Regions from separate parts of the Homo sapiens genome. Here region 2 is linked to region 1. The links come from fine-mapping of genetic effects on gene expression. Tissue or cell type: whole blood. Region 1 holds a variant in brackets; the other region holds the start of a gene. All regions are shown on one strand. Distances are between the middles of the regions.

Region 1 (8,172 bases):
AATTCAGCCTTCAGAGGAGACCACAGCCCCCGCAGACCACGTGACCTCAATCTCTCGAGATGCTAAAGCTAAGGCCCCAGCAGAGGGGTCTGAGCGCTGTCACCCCTGGCCGCTGATTTACACACCAGGCCAACACCCGCTGTACAGGAAAGAAGGCTAGACTCTCGGCAGGGGAGCCACCCTCCACACCCAGGGCCCAGCGGCAACTGCGGTCTGGCCGGAGCAGGGCAGGAAGTTGGGGGCGTGGAGACAGAGGAAGGGTTTGGCTCTGACACCCACCCCTCGGGGCCTTGCTTTTCCCACTCGGGAGGGCGGGGGCTGGGGCAGCGGGTCCTTAGCACAGGGGTAGGATCGGGGGTAAGTCAGTGCTGGATCTGGGCAGAGGAGAGTCCAGGGCCTGCCTGTAGGTCTCGGCCCTTGCCCCACCCCCTGCCTCACCCATCTCCCCCAGGAGTGCTCAGGTGACCACCCATCCGCCACTCCCTCCCGTACCTCTGCACCCTCGCACCCCAGCTCTCCCACCCCCACAGGCGCTCAGACACTCACCCATCCGCCACTCCCTCCTGTACCTCTGCACCCTCGCACCCCAGCTCTCCCACCCCCACAGGCGCTCAGACACTCACCCATCCGCCACTCCCTCCCGTACGTCTGTACCCTCGCACCCCAGCTCTCCCACCCCCCAGGCGCTCAGAGGCTCACCCATCCACCACTCCCTCCTGTACCTCTGCACCCTCGCACCCCAGCTCTCCCACCCCCACAGGCGCTCAGACACTCACCCATCCGCCACTCCCTCCCGTACGTCTGTACCCTCGCACCCCAGCTCTCCCACCCCCCAGGCGCTCAGAGGCTCACCCATCCACCACTCCCTCCTGTACCTCTGCACCCTCGCACCCCAGCTCTCCCACCCCCACAGGCGCTCAGACACTCACCCATCCGCCACTCCCTCCCGTACGTCTGTACCCTCGCACCCCAGCTCTCCCACCCCCCAGGCGCTCAGAGGCTCACCCATCCGCCACTCCCTCCCGTACCTCTGCACCCTCGCACCCCAGCTCTCCCACCCCCCAGGCGCTCAGACACTCACCCATCCGCCACTCCCTCCCGTACGTCTGTACCCTCGCACCCCAGCTCTCCCACCCCCCAGGCGCTCAGAGGCTCACCCATCCACCACTCCCTCCTGTACCTCTGCACCCTCGCACCCCAGCTCTCCCACCCACACGGGCACTCAGGCGCTCACCCATCCGCCGCGTCTCCGCAGCCAGGTTGCCAGGGTCTTGCGCACGAACTCCCCCAGGCAGTCCACGAGGGCGTGGACCATGGCAGGCTGGGCCTGCCTCACACAGTCCACGGCCAGCCCCGCGGCCACCGCATACAGGGACACCACCTTGCCCCACGTGATGCCTGCAGGGAGAGAGATGGTCAAGATCAGGACTTGAATCCCGCCCACGGGAGCACTTAAGGAAGGGGCTGGGCCTCTCTGAGCCGCTGTCCTGCTTGCCGTCCAGCTAATGACCAGGGACCGTCCCAAGGGGGGACCGCTCCCTGACAGGATGCCTGTCAGGTAGTTCTTGGGCAGGCAGGTTTCTCGGCCTCCACTGCACACCTGCCCAGCCCACGTCTGTGCAGGAGGCCGCAGGGACAACGTGGGGTGAGGCGAGGGAACTGAGGGCAGCAGCAGATGGAGTGAGCAGCCAGTGACCTCACGGGTGGCACCCCTGGGCTGCCTGTTCCCACAACAGGCCTGGCGTCCACATTTTACACATAAAGAAGCTGAGGCCCGCAGAGAAACTGCCTTCCCCAGACCCCTAACCTGCTGAGGCTGAACTGAGATGGGAGCAGCCTTGAAAGAGAGGACGAAAGATGGTGACAGCGGGGGAAAGAATAAAAGGCAGGACACGACGCCTCAACACGGAAAGACGTCTTATACGTGAGCGAGAAAAGAGAGGCTTTCAAAAAAGAACTATGAGCACAGAACTGGAACAGCTGATTCACAAAAGAAAATTATAATAAGAGACACGAAAAATGTTTACCTTCATTAATAACCAAAGAAAGGCAAATTAAAACAAAATGTAATCTGTTGCATTAAAAGCTTTTACGCCAGGCGCGGTGGCTCACGCCTGGAATCCCAGCACTTTGGGAGGCCGAGGCGGGCAGATCACAAGGTTGGGAGTTCAAGAGCAGCCTGACCAACATGGTGAAACCGTCTCTACTAAAAATACACAAAAAATTAGCCAGGCGTGGTGGCACGCGCCTATAATCCCAGCTACTCGGGAGGCTGAAGCAGGAGAATCACTTGAACCCGGGGAGGCGGAGGTTGCAGTGAGCTGAGATCGCGCCAGTACACTCCAGCCTGGGCGACAGAGCGAGACCCCGTCTCTAAATAAATAAATAAATACATGCTTTTAAATGGCAGTGTGAGGATTCAGGCCACTGCACAGCCTTGTAAACCTTGGTGGGAAGCCCAGCTTGAGGGCACTGGCAGTATCTGAATGGCCACAAAACATGCAGCCCAGCAGTGATCCCCGCAGGGAGTTAGCAGCGGTCCCCGGAGGGAGTCAGCAGTGGTCCCTGGAGGGAGTTAGCCTGAGGACACTGTACATGCAAAGATGAAGCACTGCTCTCCAATCCACCCTCATACAGCGGCCAACCTGGATTTGTTATGAAAACATAAATCAGCTCAAACAAACACTCAGTCACAGACATTCACAGCAGCCAATTCACAATTGCCAAAAGGTGGAAAGAACCCAAGTATCCTTCAACAGATAAATGGATACAAATGTGGTGGATGTTACTCAGCCACAGAAGGCAGGCTGGGCACAGTGGCTCACGCCTATAATCCCAGCACCTTGGAAGGCCGAGGTGGGCAGATCACCTGAGGTCAGGAGTTCAAGACCAGCCCGGCCAACATGGTGAAACCCCATCTCTACTAAAAATACAAAAATTAGCCGGATATGGTGGTGGGCGCCTGTAATCCCAGCTACTCGGGAGGCTGAGGCAGGGCAATCACTTGAACCCAGGAGGTGGAGGTTTCAGTGAGCCCAGATCGCACCACTGTACTCCAGCCTGGGAGACAGAGCAAGATTCTATCTCAAAAAAATAAATAAATGGCTGGGCGCGGTGGCTCACGCCTGTAATCCCAGCATTTTGGGAGGCCGAGGCAGGTGGATCACGAGGTCAGGAGATCGAAACCATCCTGGCTAAAACGGTGAAACCCCATCTCTACTAAAAACACAAAAAATTAGCCGGGCATGGCGGCTGGTGCCTGTAGTCCCAGCTACTCGGGAGGCTGAGGCAGGAGAATGGTGTGAACCCAGGAGGCGGAGCTTGCAGTGAGCCGAGATCACGCCATTGCACTCTAGCCTGGGCAATAGAGTGAAAAAATAAATAAATAATAAATAAATAAAAGAAGGCATGGGGCTCTGAGGCAGGCTGGGCATGGATGGGCCTCAAAAACACATGCTTGGGTGGAAGCTGCCAGGCATAAAAAGCCACATACAGTGTGAGTCC[G/A]TGGATGCAAAATGTCCACAACAGTCAGGGACAGAGCTGGGACGCAGGCTCACGGCTGGCAGTGGGCGAGGGGTGGGGAATGGCGGTGGCGGCCACGGGCACAGGCATTCTGGGGTGATAAAGACCTCCTGAGACTAGTAGCTGGTGGCTGCTCCACACTGGGAATGTGGCAGATGCTGCTGAATTGCACACTTTTAAGTGGATAATTATGTCATGTGAGTTTAACGTCAATTAAAAGAAATGGGGAAAAACACAACTCAGACCATGTCACTCCCCTGCATAAAGCTCTCGTGTTGCTGTGACTTCCCGTGTCCTTCAAAGTAAACCCAAGTTTGAATTCCCAGCTGAGCTGGCCCCTGGCAGACTCCAGCCCTTTTCCTGCCACCCCAACCTCGAAGGTGCCCTTGTCATTGGTGGGATGCGCACACCCGGCACAGCCCCTGCTCTACCCGCTGCACTTCCCCAGCACGTGGGGCTGTTCCTCCTTCAAGGGCACGGCCATGCGGGGAGCGGAGCCTGATGTCAGCACTGCGTGTGGCTTGCGGGACAACCTGTTCTGAGGTGTCCGGTTCCATCAGAACAGTGCATTCCACGCTGGGTGCGGTGGCTCATGCCTATAATCCTAGCACTTGGGGAGGCTGAGGCAGACGGATCACCTGAGGTCAGGAGTTCAAGATCAGCCTGGCCAACATGGTGAAACCCCATCTCTACTAAAAATACAAACATTAGCCAAGCATGGTGGCGGGTGCCTGTAATCCCAGCTACTCAGGAGGGTGAAGCAGGAGAATCGCTTGAACCCGGGTGGCGGAGGTTGCAAGATCACAACTCTTCATTCCAGCCTCGGCAAAAGAGCAAAAATTAAAAAAAAAAAAAAGAACATACTATGTTCCGAGTGATGGCAACATTTCCACTCCAGAGGGGTGGATGGGAAAGAAAGACAGGAAGACAGGAGTCCGGAGGCACCAGCCTCGGCGTCCACTGTGTCCTTCCAGCTCTTCTGTGTCTTTTTAACTGATATAATTCCATTACCATAAAATTAATCTTTTAAAAGTGGGATATCTTTGAGCATATTCACAAAGCTGTGCAACCATCACCTCTATCTAATTCTAGAACATTTTCATCATCCCACGAGAAACCCCATGCCCACTAGCAGTCACTCCCTATTTCACCGACAGCCCCTGGCAGCCACTCATCTTACTTTCTGTCTCTGTAGATTTACCTACCCTGAAAATTTCACATAAGTGTAATCACACGGCTTGTTCATTTTGTGTCTGGCGTATTTCACAGGTTGAGGTGGCAGGAAAAGGGCTGGAGTCTGCCAGGGGCCAGCTCAGCTGGGAATTCAAACTTAGGTTTACTTTGAAAGACACGGGAAGTCACAGCAACACGAGAACTTTATGCAGGGAAGTGACATGGTCTGATTTGTGTTTTTTCCCAGCACTGTGGGAGGCCGAAGTGGGTGGATCACCTGAGGTCAGGAGTTCGAGACCAGCCTGGTTGACATGGTGAAACTCTGTCTGCTAATAATATAAATAATACTAACAATACAAAAATTAGCTAGGCGTGGTGGCACATACCTGTAATCCCAGCTACTCGAGAGGCTGAGGCAGGAGAACTGCTTGAACCCAGGAAATGGAGGTTGCAGTGAGCCGAGATCGCACCATTGCACCTCCAGCCTGGGCAACAAGAGTGAAACTCCATCTCAAAAAAAAAAAAGAAAAAAGAAAAAAAAGAAAGAATAGGGTCTGCCTCTGTCACCCAGGCTGGAGAGCAGTGGCACAATCTCGGCTCACCGCAACCTGCGCCTCCCGGGTTCAAGCGATTCTCCTGTCTCAGCCTCCCGAGTAGCTGAGATTACAGGCATGTGCCACCAAACCTGGCCAATTTTGTATTTTTATTAGAGACAGGGTTTCTTCTTTTTGGTCAGGCTGGTCTCAAACTCCCGACCTCAGGTGATCCACCCACCTCGGCCTCCCAAAGTGCTGGGATTACAGGCGTGAGTCACTGCACCCAGCCATTTTTATTTTTCTTATAATAAAACTATAATTAGAAGAATTATATAAAATTACATATGTATTTATAGAAAATACAATTCAAATTCAAAGAAAAAAATAAACACTATTGCCAACTTTTAAATGGGGAGGAAAATTGAGTTCTACCACTTTGGAGATGAGTTTTTCCAAAGTCCTGAGCAGGAACTTTGAAGCCCTAAATGAAAACAGCCAGAAACAACATTTGTTGGCCTCTGCCTTCGTGGGAGTCTCCTGGGGCTGGAGACTTGGAGACCCCCACGGAGCCCTGCCCTGCAGCCCTCACACGGCTCACAACACTAGCCAAGGCCCCAGCCCTGAGGTGCGGGCTGTGCAGCTTGCCTGCAGTGGAGGGGCTGGGCAGGGCGCACACCCTCAAGGGCGCCTGCTAAGAGGAGGAGAGGGAGGAAGACCGGGGGTCAGAGCGTGCAGGGATGGCTGGCGTGGGAGGGGCCTCAGGCAGGGAGGCAAGGATGTGTAAAGCACTTGGAGGCTGGAGGCTCGCCCTGTAGACAAAAGGGCCCAAGAGGACTGGGATGGACAAAGGTGAAGGGGGCTGGGGGTGCAACTGCCAGTGGGCCTGAGGGGCAGAAGGGGCGGCCCTGCCCTAGCTCCCTAGTCAGGTGGCTCTGGTTCAGGGAGGTTCAGAAACCCGTTGCAGGTCACGAGGCTCTTGGGCTTCAACCTGCGTGGCTCCCCTCGGGCAGGGCCGCCTCAGAGTAGCAGCAGGTGGGGGTGTGGGGGCTGCCACATGGCCAGAGCCGGGCCTGCGTGGGACAAGCCTGGGGCGCTGGGTGGGGTGGGGGATGCTGACCACAGGGGAGTGGGCTCCGGTTTTCCAGTGAAAACAAGACTTAAACTGAACTCTACACATAGCCCGGGCCACCTGGCCGGTGCCGCCCACATTCCCCGTCAGCTGTGTGCCCGCTCGTCCAGCCATCCCCTTCCCCTCAGCCCTCCCTGGCCCCCAGGTGCCCTCCCAGAACCAACCAGAGCCTTCCTAGGCACCGCCCCCACCTCAGGCCAGGCCCTGCTCAAGCAAGGCCGGGCGGGTAGGGGCATCCTGGCCCCATCCTCTCTCCCTGCCGAAGGGGGAGGCGCCCCACCTCTGGGCAGGCTGCTGCATTCTCAGAAATGACTGTTCCTTTTAAAGCCAGCCTGCAGCTCGTAAACCCAGCGGCCCCGAGACAGACACCCGGGTGGCCACCCACGCGCCGGCGTCGGCCAAGGGAGGGCTGAGAGTGGTCGTCAGCCCAGGATGCCTTCCACCCCTGGCTTCCTTCCGGGGCCCCACCCACTGCCTGCCCCGTGCCTGCCTGGGTCACCCTGGCGGCAGGAGGGGCGGGCACCAGCTTGCCAGCTCCTGCCACCATGCTTCCGCTGCCCACTGTGCCGTGAACCCTGCCCCCTGCCCACCCGGCCCCTGAGCCACACCACCTGCCCACTCCCCAGCCCCTACCCATATGCACCCCCAGCCGACTCAGGTCTGCCCCATGACACGCCTCAGCCTGGCCTGGGCCCGGCCCCCCACCCTCAGCTGCCACGTGGGGGCCTTGGAGCCAAACTGCCAATGAGGATTCATTTACGATCTCCCAAAGGAACACAGGAGCAGTGACAGAGTCCAGGCTCTGAGGCCACCCCAGGAGCGCCAGACAGGGAGTCTCGCCCGCACCCAGCTTGGTTCCGCCTCCTGACCCCACACCACAGCCTGAGGTCACTGCCCCTCCCCAGGTGTGGTCTGAGGCACTCCAGCACATGCTGTGGCAACAAGACAAGCCCGGAGGCAGGACCAGACCCCGCCTGGACTCCCATCCCTGGACTCAGCCTTCCCGCTCCAGCAGCCTGCCAGGTCGCCGCTGCATCCCAGCCACAGTAACTTCTGTCCAGGGAGGTCAGCAGTGAGCAAGCGTGGCACTGGAGAGGCCGGATTCTGTCAGAAAATGCTCGCAGCCCCCGCCGCCTTGGCCTCCAGCCGAGGGTGTCAGCCCCGCTCTGTCCCCATCTGGCTGGCCCACCAGGGGTCGGAGGAGACGTCTGGGAGAGGAGCTGGAGGACACCCCACAAAGGTGGGGTCTGCCTGAGCGAGAGGCAGTGGTCCTCACACTCCTGGCCTCTTCCCCTTGCCCTCCGGTGGGTGGAGGTCCCGAGGCCATCTGAAGACCCCTGGCTCTGAGGGTCACCCCGTGGCGTGGGATGCATCTCCCACAGCGAGGGTGTGGCTTCCTCTGGCGCCTGATGCCTGGCTCCTGCTGCTGTCAGGACTGCCTGGAGACAAGGCAGCTGAGGCCACAGAGATGACAGCAGGCCACAGTCACACAGCTGACTGGCCACGGACCCACACCAGCTCCCAGACAAGGGTGTGCAAGGCCTCCCTGCTGTCAGGGGTCTTCCAAAAAACTGCCCCAGGGGAACAGCATGCCCCTCCTCCAAGCTTCAGGGAATCCTGCGCACCCCGGGGTTCACTGGCCCAGAGCTGTGCCCAGCACCTGGACAGCACTTGGAAAACAGCTGAGGAATGTGCCAATCAGGGAGGTGCCACATCAGGGCCGGCGCACCACTCACCCCAACAGCAGCACCCAGCGCCTGCCACACCCAGGGGCAGCTCATAGCACGGGGTGCCAGGACAGGACCCAAGGTC
Region 2 (8,172 bases), 310 kb before region 1:
GCTCCCCACCACCCGAGCTCCCACCTGCTGTAGGCAGTTAAACCACTCAAACTTCACTTACAGGATTATCCAGCTGAACACCCAGGCTGTACTGCTTAAGGGCTGCAGCCTTGAAAGACACACTCAAAATTACAGCCTCAGAAAGCACGCACTGCAGGGAAAGGCACTCAATAGAACATGCTGAGTGGTGCAATCCACCCTGGGGCCCCCAGAGGAGTCTGCATTTCTCTCCCCGTGAGCTCTTTAATGGTGCACACACAGCACCCAGCACGGAGGGGCTAATTGATTAGCTGTCTCTGCAGCACATGCTGCTGGCGCCATGGCTCACAGCAATTCCACGCTTACACTCACAGCCTGTTTCTCTGCTGTTGGAGCTCTGGTGGGCTGCAGGCTTCACTGCCACAACACACGGGACCCGGTGTCCACCTGCCACCTCCCCACCTGGGGCGCCTCTGGGCTGCTAGGCTGGTAAGAGGTCACCCCTGCCGTGACAGGGTAGCCAGTGCTGGACCTGCGTTCCTCCAGCAAATGGCTGTGAAACTGGACAAATACAGGGCCACTGTGATGGAGCCAACTGTGAGCCATGCTTCCCACCCTCCCCCTCCCACTCTGCCACCATAGGAGGCAGAGCTCGGGGAAACAAGGGCGCAGTGAGAGGAGGGCATAGCACCAGGGCTGGGGTTGGCCTGGGACAACAGAGAAGGAGCTGTGTGGATGCCGGACAGGGGAGATGGGGAGGAAAGTGACCATGGCTCACAGCGGCCTCAACCTCCTGGGCTCCAGGGATCCCCCTGCCTCAGCCTCCCGAGCAGCTGAAACTACAGGTGCACACCACCATGCTCGGCTAGTTTGCTTTCTTTTTAATAGACGAGGTATCACTGTGTTTCCGAAAGCAGTCTCGAACTCCTAAGTTCAAGCAATCCTCCTGCCTCTGCCTCCTAAAATTTGGGCATCACAAACATGAGCCACCACACCCAACTGACAGTTAATTTCTTAAAAAGTTAACTTTAATTTATTCAAAAGATTGTCTAAAGCAAAAGTAGCATTGTGTTACGGAGTTTGTAATGTAGGTAGAGGTTAAACATATGGCAACTGTAACAGGAAGAACAGGGTTAGAGGAATTACACCGTTACAAGTTTCCCACATTTTGTGTGAGGTGAATAGGCTGATAAATTAAGGATTCATTTTGTTGTCTTTAGGGTAACTACTAAAAATGGTAATACCAAGAGGCACAGCTAAAAGACCAACAGAGGTGTAAAACGAAGTACTAAAAAATTTCAATTAACCCAAAAAAGGCAGGAATGGAGGAACAAAGGAACAAAAAAATGACAAATAAAAAACAAATGACAAGATAAGACACTTAGAAAACAAGTAGCAAGATGGGGGATCTACAGCAACCTCATCAATCATTACTGGAATTGCAAATGGAGAAACTCCATGTGCAAAGCAGGGATTGTCACCAAGACCCAACTCCATCTACAGACACCCACGTAAGATACAAAGACAGGTTGGGTGTCTAAAGGATAGAAAAAGATCCACAGTGGTCCAGGAGTGGTCCCAGCATTGTGGTAGGCACAAGAGTGAGGATCACTTGAGTCTTAGAGTTTGACCTGTAATCCAAGCACTTTGGGAGGCTGAGGCAGGCAGATCACCTGAGGTCAAGAGTTCCAGACCAGCCTGGCCAACACGGTGAAACCCTGTCTCTACTAAAAATACGAAAAAAATTAGCCAGGCATGGTGGTTTGTGCCTGTAATCCCAGCTACTGGAGAGGCTGAGGCAGGAGAATTGCCTGAACCCAGGAGGCAGAGGTTGCAGCGAGCCAAGATCGCGCCACTGCACTCCAGCCTGGGCAACAAGAGTGAAACTCCATCTCAAAAAAAAAAAAAAGGAGTTTGAAAAATACAAAAAAAAAATTAGCCTGGTGTGGTGGTGCACACCTGTGGTCTCAGCTACTCTGGAGGCTGAGGTGGAAGGATCACTTGAGCCCAGGAGGTCGAGGCTGTGGTGAGCCAAGATGGCACCACTGCACTCCAGCCCGGGCAACAGAGTGAGACCCTGTCTCAAAAAAAAAAAAAAAAAGGAAAAAAGTGGCCAGGCACGGTGGCTCATGCCTGTAATCCCAGCACTTTGGGAGGCCAAGGTGGGCAGGATCACAACGTCAGGATATAAAGACCATCCTGGCTAACACGGTGAAACCCCGTCTCTACTAAAAAAAATACAAAAAAATTAGCCAGGCGTGGTGGCGGGTGCCTGTGGTCCCAGCTACTCGGGAGGCTAAGGCAGGAGAATGGCGTGAACCCGAGAGGTGGAGCTTGCAGCGAGCCAAGATCGCGCCACTGCACTCCAGCTTGGGCAATGGAGCAAGACTCTGTCTGAAAAAGAAAAAAAAAAGAAAAAAGAATAGAAAAAGGAAAAGATACACAGTGCCAATTCTGTGCATAAGAAAATAGCCCTGGAACACTCACATTAGACCAGGTAGCACCCCTGAAGATAAAGAGGGACATTCCATGATGACACCATGGTCAGCCACTGTCAGGATCACAGAAAAATCCTAAATGCCTAAAAAGATAATAACAGTTTCAAAAAACACGAAGTAAAAACGGACGGAACTGAAAGAATAGAGAAATTCACTGTCCTAGTTGGAGATGTAACAGCTCTCTCGGGACTGCAAGCACAGCGGGTGGGACAGGAAGGATTCGCCGGTTTAAAGAGCACTGTCAACCAGCTGCACCTCATTAACTCTTGGCGAGCATCCCACCCCACAGCTGCAGAACACAAGTAATTTTTGAGTGTATACGGAGCATTTACAAAGATAGGGCTTATGTTAAACAGTAAGAATAAGTCTCTGTAATTTTAAAAAGTGAGATCCTGCAGTTTGTTCCTTGATCAAAATGGAATTAAATCAGTAATAGCAAGATTCCTTTTAGACTCTCCACATATTTGGAAAGTGGGCAATACTCTTCTAAATATGCTTCTCAGAATAGAGGGTTTAAAAAATAAATACACACATAAAGAGATTCTTCTAAATAAAGCATGGGTCAAAGAAGAAATCCAAAGAAAATTAGCACTTATTTCAAATATCCATCAAAATATTACACAAAAATTGTAGCATAGTCTTAGAGGAAGATTTGTGACTTTAAATACTGACGACATTTCAACAAAGAAGGTACACAGTGATCAATACACTCATGAAAGGGTGTTCAACTCACCCGTCACAAGGAAATGCAAACTAACGCCTCACTGAGATCTGCCAAACTTCTGGTGCCGACTGTGACCTGGCCGCGCCTGCGGGGGGCAGAGGAGAGAAGGAGACTGGGGGTGAGGTCCACGTGTCCCAGGCAGGGGGACAGAGGCCAGAAGAAAGTGGCTGCGGGTGAGATCCACATGTCCCAGCCAGGGACGGAGAGGAGGGAGAACCGGACAGCAGCATCTGCTTCCAGCCACGTCACGTGTTTGGAGAGGCGGTGTCACCTCAGTGTGAGGAATGGCCACTCAGGACACGTCTGGACTTCCTCCCAGCCACCTCTCACCAGGGATCAGAATCCCGGCCCCGGGGACCCTCGACCCATAAACATCTTGGGCCTACAGCACCACCAAGCACGCCACAGCCTTGGCCTGGGGCTGCTTCAGAGACACCGCACGGAGGGCTTCTCACTTCCCCAGCCAGGAGCCACCCACGCTGCACCCGGGGAGGCCCCAGTTGCATCTGTCCCACCTTTCAGACCGAGCCAGCCAGAGGCGCCCAGAAAGACTATGCCAGGCCTCAGCTGTGTTGAAACCCAGGTTGGGGACAGTGGCAGGACCTGTGCCAGCGTCTGCCCTTGCTCCTGGCTGGATTCAGTTACTTGGCTGGGCCCCAGTGAAGGCGCAGAGGGCACCACCACCTGCACAGGAAGGGAAGGAAGCCCACAGCAGAGCCAGCACACGTGTGGCCACGCCCCGGCCCAGCCCCCCCTCACACGTGGCCACACCCCCTGCCCAGCCCCCTTACATGTGGCCACACCTCCGATCAGCCCCCTTCCACACGTGGTCACGCCCCCTGTTCAGCCTCCTCGCACATGACCACGCCCCCGTCCAGCCCCCGCACACAGGGCCACTCCTCTAGCCCAGCCCCTCACACGCGTGACCACGCCCCTTAGTCTCCTCGCTCGTGGCCACGCCCCCTGCACGGCCCCCTCGCGCGTGGCCACACCCCTGTCCAGCCACACACACACACACACACACACACACACACACACACACACACACACGCTGGGCCACGCCCCTACCCAGCCCCCTCACACGTATGGGCACGCCCCTGCTCAGCGCCCTCACACGCATGGCCACCCCCCGTCCAGCCCCTTAACGCGTGCTGCCCCGTGCCCACCTACAGCGGCCTCCTCCGCACCAGGGCTGACCCAGTGTGGGGTCCAGGTGGGCTCTGGTAGGCCCCCGGGCAGAGCTGTGCCCCGCGTCACTGAGGATGCACAGAGAAAAAGGAAGGGGCGGAGGAAGCGGAAACCCGAGCAGCGCTGCCTGGGCGTGGCAAGCCCGCTAGTTTTCCCGCCCGCTCATCTGCTTTCCCTCCCTCCATAATAAGTGTGGCACCTGGAGTGTGTGACTTTCATGATTTTCTTTTAGGAGAAACATAACGCAGTCCTCTGTCCCGCCCCTCCTGCAGGGAATGGTCATGGGGGCGTAGTTAACCCCATGCGTGCGGAGGTACACCTTGGAGCCCAGCGCCGACACAGGTCAGGAGAGTGTTAGCCACTGCTGAATGACTCCTGTTGTGTGCAAAATTGTTTTGACTTTTAAAGACTACACACAACCCATTCTGCCATTATTTAGGGTGAATTATACTGCTGGGTCACAAGAAGAAGACGTGGCTCCTCTTGATGCTGAGGGAGGCCTGGAAGTCATTGCTGGGAGCTTGGGAAGAGGGCTCCCCGAGGCAGAGCCTCCCAGGGGACAGAGGCGGCCCAGCGATGACCTGGGAGGTGAGCACAGGTGTGCGGGGCCCCTCGGGGCCCACCATAAGGCCCCACAGCAGGCCCTAACCTCCCCCATGTGTCCTAAGGCAGTTCCATTTGCATTGGCAATGGTCATTTCACTACTTCTGACCTGGAAGCGAGGTATATGTTTGGAGGTGACACGAGGCTCCCAAAGGGGTGCTATAGGGCGCCTTTTCTTATTTTATAAAACTTACATCGAAATGAGCCGCACCCTGAGGGGCAGCCCACCTGCTCACCCCTGGAGGGACTCTCCCAGGGCTGAGGGTCTTCCCCAGATGCTTCACCCGGGCTCCTCCAAGTGTGGGGTGGCCTTCAGTCTGCTGCGAAGAGGATGTGGGGTGTCTGGCAGCCACTCTGCTCTGGATTTGCGGGAACCTCTGCTGCCTCCCTGGTGCCCCTTGATTGGCGCTGGGTCTAGGAACCCCCTCTGGGTTGGAACTGGACTTGAAAAGGTCATTTTCTGCCTGCACCCACCAAGGCCACCTGGGGCTGTGGAGCCAGGAAACCCCTGTCACTCTCCTCAGATGCTGGCCCGAGGGCACCCTCAGTCTCCCTGAGTCCAAATCACCTTTTCTTCCCAAATGACCCAGCAGCCTAGGCCAGCCCCAGCTGGAAAGACTGCTCCCCTCTCTCCTCCGCTCTGCTCCCCTGCCCTCTCTTCCCCTCCCCTCCCTTCCTTTCTTCTGCTGGCGGAAGTCCTGTGCCAATCCCACATCCACATCCGTCACTGCACTCCTGGATCACACCTGGACAGACACAGAACTAGTCCTGGGAGTGATCCCAGGGCCAGGACCCTAGTAATGAGTTATCTAAATGTCTCTGGGTGTCTGGAATTGGTTCTCTGCTCCAACTAGCTTTAAAGGCATTCACGCTCTGTTCCCAGGGGTACCAGGGTGCTAGCTGCCCACAGGAGTAGCATACAGGCACTCAGATTGCCACCTGCAGACATCTGTAATCAAATGGCCATAGGATGCCTGGCCCTGGGCATCAAGGGAAAAATTTAGGGGTGTAGCTGGGTGGGCGGATGCTTCTAAGTGTGCTGGAGAACTTGGGGAAAAAGAGAAAGGCCTCCAATTTAGCCCCCAAAGTCCCAGGCAAACAGGGACACTTGCCATAACAGGTGGAGACATTCCCCAAAGGCTGGGAGGCAGAGTGGAGGCATCGCCAGGACCCCAGCCCTCTGCTGCCTCTCCTGTACAGAGGTACAAAGTCCCAGGCCCCAGAAGGAAAGGGAAGGAGATCCCCGAACCTCTGCTCCAGCTAGGACCTCACTGAGGCCCAGGTGGTGTGACCCTCCACCTACCAGCCAGCCCGGGGCCCGGATCACAGCGTGGCCACTCCTCCTGGGGACTTCCCTGGCCTCCCGCTCCCCTCGCCAAAGCTGCGGGTGAAGCAGCTCTAGCCCACCCTAGCTAGCCATTGTCCAAGGCCAAGGCCCGCCTGTCCACCTGAATACCCAGGGTCCAGGGTAACCAACCTGATCCTAACCCAACCCTGCAACAGGTAGCTACATAAATCAGCACAGACCCTACCCCACCCCCAGACACTTAGAGAGGCATTCGCTTTATCCACCACAGGGTGATGGGAGCTGCTGTCAGAGTTCTCGCCAGACCCTCCCAGGGAACCCCAGACTTGGTTTCAGCAGGAACCACATGTGACCCTGGATGAGCTGACCCCCATCACTAGGAAATGTACCTTAAGTCAGAAAAGTATTCACACTTTGAGTCCCCTCAACTTTGGCTGAACTAATAGCAATTACATTAAAAATGTGTCTGCCCTTCATCTTCTTTGACTTTGATATTAAATATCTCTACTAATAACTCAGTTGCCTAAAGTCGTTACTGCTACCTCATATTTAATTAGGCCCAACCTGGCCACTCCAACCATATAGGAGACTCAGGCAAGAGCTCAGATGTAGGCTCAGGTTAAAGTTCCAGTGTGGATTCAGGTGTGGGCCCAGGTGCAGCCTCAGGTGTAGTCTCGGGTGAGGGCTTAGGTGCAGCCTCAGGTGTAAGCTCAGGTTAAAGTTCCAGTGTGGGCCCAGGTGCAACCTCAGATGAGAGCTCAGGTGTGGGCTCAGGTGCAGCCTCAGACGAGAGCTCAGGTGTGGGATCAGGTGCAGCCTCAGACGAGAGCTCAGGTGTGGGCTCAGGTGCAGCCTCAGACGAGAGCTCAGGGGAGGGCTCAGGTGCAACCTCAGATGAGGGCTCAGGTGTGGGCTCAGGTGCAGCCTCAGATGAGAGCTCAGGTGTGGGCTCAGGTGCAGCCTCAGATGAGGGCTCAGGTGTGGGCTCAGGGTGAGAGTTCAGCTTGCTGCTTGGCATGTGAACCCCAGGCCTACCCTTGGCTTTTGAGCTAGTGTCTGTGCCTGGGCTTTCCCGCGACCATGGCGGTGCATTCAGCACTCACAGTACCGCATTTGCCTTCACAGCGGTGAGTGCACGCATTGCCTTAGCTCCCATTTTTACTAGTGAATGTAACAATTAATTAAATAAATACAATTACTAATGAAACCAATGGTAACAATGCTGATGATGGGTAGTTTTAACAACTCATCTGATTAAGCCGAGAAGCAGTTCAACAGCAATGAGGGCAAGGGAGCGGCCCCAGAGATCCACGCCCTCCCAGGCCTCCCTCGACAACAAGGTCTGCTCTTCCCCCACAGCGGCCACACGGGGGCGCCGCAGGACAGCGCGGAGTGGGCCGGGAGAGGGAGGGGAGCGAGGAGAGGGATGGGGTGGGGGGGCCGGGAGAGGGAGGGGAGCGAGGAGAGAGGGAAGGGGTGGGGGGGGCGGCCAGGAGAGGGAGGGGAGGGAGGAGAGGGATGGGGGTGGGGGGGCCGGGAGAGGGAGGGGAGCGAGGAGAGGGATGGGGTTGGGGGGCGGCCAGGAGAGGGAGGGGAGCAGAGAGAGGGACAGGTTGGGGGGGCCGGAAGGGGGAAGGGGGAAAGAGGAAGGGGAGGGGAGGGGAAGAGAGAAAGAGGGGCGCTGGACAGGTACACGAGGAGGGGAGAGGGACGGGGAGGGGGCTGGGAGGACCGAGAAAGGAGGGTCGGGGGAGGGGTAGGAAAGAAGGACCAGGAAGGGGGTGGGAAGGGGGTGGGGAGTGAGGAGCATGGGGGGTGGGGGGCGAAGGGCGGGGTAGGGGCCCTGGGGAGGTCGGGGAGGGGGGTAGGGGGCA

Evidence for each region. PIP is the estimated chance that this variant, and not a neighbour inherited with it, causes the effect.
Region 2: it holds the start of LINC01237, and the variant in region 1 is fine-mapped to the expression of LINC01237 in whole blood (INTERVAL, PIP 0.99).

What each region holds. Positions count from the first base shown.
Region 1 is chr2:241,563,351-241,571,522 of GRCh38, reverse strand. It overlaps BOK (BCL2 family apoptosis regulator BOK), which reads right to left. Exons shown (of 5, transcript NM_032515.5): 4 at 1,235-1,398. Among named protein-coding and RNA genes, the nearest start is that of BOK-AS1, 8.3 kb to the right of the region's middle. RefSeq lists an enhancer at 843-1,467. The variant G/A (reference allele first, on the strand shown) is at 3,505.
Region 2 is chr2:241,877,674-241,885,845 of GRCh38, reverse strand. It overlaps LINC01237 (long intergenic non-protein coding RNA 1237), which reads right to left and starts at 4,483. Exons shown (of 4, transcript NR_110220.1): 1 at 4,368-4,483; 2 at 3,211-3,286. LOC105373978 (a long non-coding RNA gene) reads left to right here and starts at 4,519. Exons shown (of 3, transcript XR_924077.3): 1 at 4,519-4,731; 2 at 4,829-4,977; 3 at 6,570-6,812. RefSeq lists an enhancer at 4,463-5,053.